Homo sapiens: one gene and its partner. The protein of the gene in region 1 purifies or fractionates together with the protein of each later gene. This does not show direct contact. Each region holds a gene or a part of one and is shown in the gene's direction. Other genes may lie near its edges.

Region 1 (4,116 bases):
AGGCTGATCTTGAACTCCTGTCCTCAAGGGATCCACCTGCCTCAGCCTCCCAAAGTGTTGGGATTACAGGTGTGAGCCACCGCTCCTGGCCCTAAAAGTCTTTAATGTTGATGAAACCTTTTTTTTTTCTTTTTCATTTTATTCTTGTGTCTAAGAAATCATTGACTAATTCAAGATTATGAAGATTGATGTCTCTGTTTTCTTCTAAGAGTTTATGGCTTTAGCTGTTACATTTAGATCATTGATCCATTTTAAGGTAATTGCTGGATATCATGTGAGGTAGTGATTCAGACTCATTCTTCTGCATGTAAATATCCAATTGTTCCAGCACCATTAGCTGAAAAGACTATTTTTTTCTCCATTTTAATGTCTTGGCACCCTTATTGAAAATCAGTTGACTATAGATGTATGGGTTTATTTATTTTATACTCTCAGTTCTCTTCCAGTGATCTATATGTCTCTCCTTATAGCAGTACCATGCTGTCTTGACTACTACAGTTTTTTAGTAAGTTTTGAAATTGAGAAGTGTGAGTCTTATTCTTCAACATTGTTTTGGTTATTCTGGATTCCTTGTATTTCCATATGGATTCTAGGATCAGCTTGTTAGTGTCTGCAAAGAAGCCAACTCAGTGGCATTCTGATAGGGATCTCATTGAATTTTTAGTTAAACTTTGGCAGTGTTGCCATCTTAGCAATGTTAAGTCGTCTGATCTATGAACATGAGATGTCTTTCCATTTATTTAGGTTGTCTTCAATTACTTTCAACAACGTTTTTCCGTTTAAGGAGTATAAATTTGCACTTTTGTTAAATTTATTTCTAAGTATTTTATTATTTATTTATTTTTTGATGCTATAGTAAAAGGAACTAGTTTCTTACTTTTATTTTTGGATTGTTCATTCCAAGAGTATAGAGGTACAGTTTTTACCTTGTGTCCTGCAACCTTGGTGAACTAGTTTATTGGTTCTAATAGTTTAGTGGACACCTTAGGATTTTCTATTTATAAGATTGTGTTAGCCATGGATAGAGATAATTTTACTTCTTTCTTTCCAATCCAGATATCTTTTGTTTCAATTTCCTGCTTAATTGCCTTGGCCAGAACCTTCACTATGGTTCAATAGAACTTGCAAGAGCAGACATCCTTGTCTTATTCCTGATCCTAGGGTGAAAGCTTTAGTCTTCTACCACTGAGTATGGGGTTAGCTATGGGTTTTTCATAGATGTATTTTATCAAATTGAAGAATTTCACTTCTCCTCCTAGTTTGGGTGTTTTTTTAAATCATGAAAGAGTGCTGGATTTTGTCAGATGCTTTTTTCTGCATCTATTAAGATGACCATTTTTTTTGTTCTGTTCATATGGTGTATTACATTAATTAACTTTTGAATGTTAAGCCAACCTTGTATTCCTGGGATAAATCTTGTTTGTCATGGTATATAATCCTTTTTCTTTGTTGCTGGATTCAGTTTGCTTGTATTTTATTAAGGATTTGTATCTATATCCATAAGAAATCTTTGTAGTGTTCTTTTTTGGTGATACCTCTGTCTAGTCTCCCCAAAATATTCTTGATTGAGTTCTGTCACCAACTAAAGAGCTTTTTTTTTTTTTTTTTTTTTGGAGATGGAGTCTCGCTCTGTTCCCAGGCTGGAGTACAGTGACGCGAACTCTGCTCACTGCCAGCTCTGCCTCCTGGGTTCACGCCATTTCTCCTGCCTCAGCCTCCCAAGTAGCTGGGACTACAGGCACCTGCCACCACGCCCAGCTAACTTTTTTTTTTTTTTGTACTTTTAGTAGAGACGGGGTTTCATCGTGTTAGCCAGGACGGTCTCGATCTCCTGACCTCATGATCCATCCGCCTTGGCCTCCCAAAGTACTGGGATTACAGGCTTGAGCCACCGCGCTTGCCTAAAGATCTTATCTATTTGATTAGTGGTATCCATATTTACAATCTCTTAAGTAAATCTGTTTTTTTTTTTTTTTTTTTAAGAGACGAGTCTACTCTGTTGCCCAGGCTGGAGTGTGGTGCTGATCTCGGCTCACTATAACCTCCGCCTCCTGGGTTCAAGTGATTCTCCTGCCTCAGCCTCCCAAGTGGCTGGGATTACAGGCACCCACTACCATACCCAGGTAATTTTTTTTTTTTTTTTTTTTTTTTTTTTTTTTTAGTAGAGATGGGGTTTTGCCATGTTGGCCAGGCTGGTCTTGAACTCCTTACCTCAGATGATCCATCTGCCTGGGCCTCCCAAAGTGCTGGGATTACAGGCATGAGCCACTGCATCTGGCCTTAAGTAAAGATTTAACAGAGGTAGGGAGTGGACTGTAGTTCTAAGTCAGCCCCTAATTTGCTATATGACCTGGGATAAGTCATTTTGCCTTTCTGAGCCCAAGTTTTTTGATTCATAAAGTAAAGGTGATGGACTGAGTTATAATCAAAGTATTTACGAGCATTAAAGCTCTTCTGTGGCATTTCCATGGAAATTCTGGTATAGACAAAGTTAGTTCCTTGTCTTTTCCCGATCCTAGGGGGAAGGCTTTAGTCTTCTACCACTGAGTATGAAGTTAGCTGTGAGTTTTTCATAGATGTTCTTTCTCAGGTTGACAAAGTTCTCTTCTATTCCTAGTTGGTTTGGGTGAGCTTTTTCTTTTTTTTTTAAATCTTTCGGCCAGACATGGTGGCTCATGCCTGTAATCCCAGCACTTTGGGAGGCCGAGGCAGGTGGATCACCTGAGGTCAGGAGTTCGAGACCAGCCTGGCCAACATGGTGAAACCCCATCTCTAGTAAAAATACAAAAACTTAGCTGGGCACGGTGGCGGGCACCTGTAATCCCAGCTACTTGGAAGCTGAGGCAGGAGAATTGCTTGAACCTGGGAGGCGGAGGTTGCAGTGAGCTGCGATCGCACCATTGCATTCCAGCCTGGGCAACAACAGCAAAACTCTGTCTCAAAAAAATAAAAAAATAAAAGGATGTTTCATGATAAAAAGTCCAGAGTGGTGATTTACTTTATTGTTGTTGTATTTTAAAATTTCATTTTATTGAGACAGAATCTCACTATGTTGCCCAGGCTGGTCTTGAACTCCTGGGCTCAAGCAGTCTTCCCATCTCTGCCTCCCAAAGTGTGGAGATTACAGGTATGAGCCACCATTCCCGGCTAGTGATTTACTTTATTTATTTATTTATTTATTTATTTATTTATTTATTTATTTTTATTTAGACAGGGTCCCACTCTGTCGCTCAGGCTGGAGTGCAATGGCGTGATCTCAGCTCACTGCAACCACTGCCTCCTGGGTTCAAGTGATCCTCCCACCTCAGCCTCCCAAGTAGCTGGGACTACAAGTGTGTGCCACCACACACCGCCACGCTTAGCTTATTTTTGTATTTTTTGGTAGAGGTGGGGTTTCGCTATGTTGGCCAGGCTGGTCTGGAACTCCTGACCTCACGTGCTCCACCTGCCTCGACCTCCCAAATGGCTGGAATTACAGACATGAGCCACCACACCTGACCCTATGATTTACTTTAAAAGATCATCCTGTTTTACCAAAGGATTCATGTTGGATCTGTTGAAAAACAACAGTTCCCTGCTGCTTTTTGAATGTGGTTCCATTAATAATGATTTGATTTGTAATTAGCTTTTAAGAAACATAACTATTAGTTCCAATAAGATACTTGCTTTTTTTTTATTTTTATTTTTTTAAACAAACATAGCTTACAAAAGCAAGCCGGCTGGGCGCGGTGGCTCACGCCTGTAATCCCAGCACTTTGGGAGGCTGAGGCGGGTGTATCACCTGGGGTCGGGAGTTTGAGACCAGCCTGGCCAACATGGTGAAACCCTGTCTCTACTAAAAATACAAAAATTAGCCAGCCATGGTGGCAGATGCCTATAATCCCAGCTACTTGGGAGGCTTAGGCAAGAGAATTGCTTGAACCTGGGAGGCGGAAGTTGCAGTGAGCCGAGATTGTGCCACTGCACTCCAGCCTGAGGGACAGAGTCAGACTGTGCCAAAAACAAACAAACAAACAAAAAACAAGCCAATAAGATGCTTTGTTTTTGTTTTTGTTTTTGTTATTTTTGAAGATAAGGTCTTCTCTGTTGCCCAGGCTGGAATACAGTGGTGATAAT
Region 2 (3,500 bases), on another chromosome or scaffold:
AGACACGTACTCTCATATGGAGGGTGTGGCCTCAGTGTCCACAGCCTCAGTGGCTACGAGCTCATTTCCAGAGCCAACAACAGATGATGTGTCTCCATCTCTGCATGCTGAGGTTGGCTCCCCACATTCCACAGAAGTAGATGACTCCCTTTCAGTGTCTGTTGTGCAAACACCTACCACATTCCAGGAAACAGAAATGTCTCCATCTAAAGAAGAATGCCCAAGACCGATGTCAATTTCTCCACCAGATTTCTCCCCTAAAACTGCAAAGTCCAGGACACCCGTTCAAGATCACAGATCTGAACAGTCCTCAATGTCTATTGAATTTGGCCAAGAATCTCCTGAGCAATCCCTTGCTATGGACTTCAGTCGACAGTCTCCAGATCACCCTACAGTGGGTGCAGGCGTGCTTCACATCACTGAAAATGGGCCAACTGAAGTGGACTACAGTCCTTCTGACATGCAGGACTCCAGTTTATCACATAAGATACCACCTATGGAGGAGCCGTCCTACACCCAAGATAATGATCTTTCTGAGCTCATCTCAGTATCTCAGGTAGAGGCCTCCCCGTCCACCTCTTCTGCTCATACCCCTTCTCAGATCGCTTCTCCTCTCCAAGAAGATACTCTATCCGATGTTGCTCCTCCCAGAGATATGTCCTTATATGCCTCACTCACCTCTGAAAAAGTGCAAAGTCTGGAAGGAGAGAAGCTCTCTCCAAAATCTGATATCTCTCCACTCACCCCACGAGAGTCCTCTCCTTTATATTCACCTACTTTTTCAGATTCTACCTCTGCAGTCAAAGAGAAAACAGCAACTTGCCACAGTTCCTCTTCTCCACCAATAGATGCAGCATCCGCAGAGCCCTATGGCTTCCGTGCCTCAGTGTTATTCGATACAATGCAACACCATCTAGCCTTGAATAGAGATTTGTCCACACCTGGCCTGGAGAAGGACAGTGGAGGGAAGACACCTGGTGACTTTAGCTATGCCTATCAAAAGCCTGAGGAAACAACCAGGTCCCCAGATGAAGAAGATTATGACTATGAGTCTTATGAGAAGACCACCCGGACCTCAGATGTGGGTGGCTATTACTATGAGAAGATAGAGAGAACCACAAAATCTCCAAGTGACAGTGGCTACTCCTATGAGACCATTGGGAAAACTACCAAGACCCCTGAAGATGGTGACTATTCCTATGAAATTATTGAGAAGACCACACGGACCCCTGAAGAGGGTGGGTACTCATATGACATAAGTGAAAAGACCACCAGCCCCCCCGAAGTGAGTGGTTACAGCTATGAAAAGACTGAGAGGTCTAGAAGGCTTCTGGATGACATCAGCAATGGCTATGATGACTCTGAGGATGGTGGCCACACACTTGGGGACCCCAGCTACTCTTATGAAACCACTGAGAAAATTACCAGTTTCCCTGAGTCTGAAGGTTATTCCTATGAGACATCTACAAAGACAACACGAACCCCTGATACTTCCACATACTGTTACGAGACTGCAGAGAAAATCACTAGAACCCCTCAGGCATCCACATATTCCTACGAGACTTCAGACCTATGCTACACTGCAGAAAAGAAGTCCCCCTCAGAAGCCCGTCAGGATGTCGATTTATGCCTCGTGTCCTCTTGTGAATACAAGCACCCCAAGACAGAGCTTTCACCCTCTTTCATTAATCCCAATCCTCTTGAGTGGTTTGCCAGTGAAGAACCCACTGAAGAATCTGAAAAGCCCCTCACTCAATCAGGGGGAGCCCCACCGCCTCCAGGAGGAAAGCAACAGGGCCGACAGTGTGATGAAACCCCTCCCACCTCAGTCAGCGAGTCAGCCCCATCCCAGACCGACTCTGATGTTCCCCCGGAGACTGAAGAGTGCCCCTCCATCACGGCCGATGCCAATATCGACTCTGAAGACGAGTCGGAAACCATCCCCACAGACAAAACTGTCACGTACAAACACATGGACCCACCTCCAGCTCCCGTGCAAGACCGCAGCCCTTCGCCACGCCACCCTGATGTGTCCATGGTGGACCCAGAGGCCTTGGCCATTGAGCAGAACCTGGGCAAAGCTCTAAAGAAAGATCTGAAAGAGAAGACCAAAACCAAAAAGCCAGGTACAAAGACCAAGTCATCTTCACCTGTCAAAAAGAGTGATGGGAAGTCTAAGCCCTTGGCAGCTTCACCAAAACCAGCGGGCTTGAAAGAATCCTCGGATAAAGTGTCCAGGGTGGCTTCTCCTAAGAAGAAAGAATCTGTGGAAAAGGCAGCAAAACCCACCACCACTCCTGAGGTCAAAGCTGCACGTGGGGAAGAGAAAGACAAGGAGACCAAGAATGCTGCCAATGCCTCTGCATCCAAGTCGGCCAAGACCGCCACTGCAGGTAGGTTGAGAAGGCTGGGCATTGGATATATGTCACAACCATTCTACTTGCGTTTACAGCCTTTATATTTCCCTGTTTGGCTTTGTACTGGGAAGATGAGGGAGCACAATTGATGCTTTACCTTCCCTGTACTCTTCTCCTCTGCCCAAAGGTATATATCTCAGTCCAGTGTGGCCTTAAGGCTTGGAAATAGCTCAGTGTATGGTTCAAAGCAGCTGTGATTCATCACTGGGATTCCTGATTTTGTGCCGTTTTCGAACACAGCAACTACAGCCCTGTTCTAAATCTTCAGAACCAAGGATGTGTCTTTCAGGTGCTTCTGGAAGACTGGTTTCAGCCATACTGGCCTCAGAATCCAGCAGGGTAACACAGGCCAGGAGCTCCCAAAGGCCTAAGGAGAACCAGAGGTTTCACATCAAGACTGGATCAACCAGTCTAGACCCAAGATTTAGAGTCCTTTTTTAAAAAAAATTTTTTTTAAATTAAAAATGTTTACATTTTTATTTAAAACATCACCAGGTTGGAGATAAATCCTCATTAAAGGCAGTGTTCCATTTTCTTATCAGCCAAAAAATACTATAATTTCAGTTGACCAGTGAGTGTCCGGTGAAAATTGAGAGAAAAACATTGATGGCTCTGCTCTTACCCTTCTCTTACCCCATGGCCTCATTAGTAGAGACTCAATGCTATTTCAGATTAAAATTCCACTGGGAAGCTAGATGCATGGCCTCATGCCTGTAATTTCAGCACTTTGGGAGGCTGAGATGGAAGGTTAGCTTCAGCCCAGGAAGTTGAGACCAGCCTGTGCAACATAGCAAGACCCTGTCTCCACAAAAAAAAAAAAATGTTTTTTAATTAGCTGGGTGTGGTGGCACGTGCTTATAGTCTTAGCTACTTGGGAGGCTGAGGCAGGAGGATCACTTCAGCCCAAGAGATCAAGGCTGCAGTGAGCCAGAATTGTATGTATCACTGCATGCCAAGCCTGGGTGACAGAGCAAGACCCTGTCTCTCAAAAATAAATAAATAAGCAAATGAAATGCCACTTGGCAAGAGCAGGTATCCCTGATTTTTGATCATTCATGTTTTTGGTCATGATTCTCAGATTTA

What was found. Proteins that work in one complex are often made in the same cells at the same time.
Region 2: the proteins of RPS6KA5 (region 1) and MAP1B purify together in Homo sapiens (affinity purification with mass spectrometry; one large-scale study listed by BioGRID and IntAct). This does not show direct contact.

What each region holds. Positions count from the first base shown.
Region 1 is NC_000014.9:91,050,330-91,054,445, reverse strand, and holds part of RPS6KA5 (ribosomal protein S6 kinase alpha-5), read left to right. Parts: intron 1-1,983; exon of another isoform or gene 1,984-2,123; intron 2,124-4,116. UniProt on the Homo sapiens protein: Serine/threonine-protein kinase that is required for the mitogen or stress-induced phosphorylation of the transcription factors CREB1 and ATF1 and for the regulation of the transcription factors RELA, STAT3 and ETV1/ER81, and that contributes to gene activation by histone phosphorylation and functions in the regulation of inflammatory genes.
Region 2 is NC_000005.10:72,197,975-72,201,474, forward strand, and holds part of MAP1B (microtubule-associated protein 1B), read left to right. Parts: coding exon 1-2,393; intron 2,394-3,500. UniProt on the Homo sapiens protein: Facilitates tyrosination of alpha-tubulin in neuronal microtubules. Phosphorylated MAP1B is required for proper microtubule dynamics and plays a role in the cytoskeletal changes that accompany neuronal differentiation and neurite extension.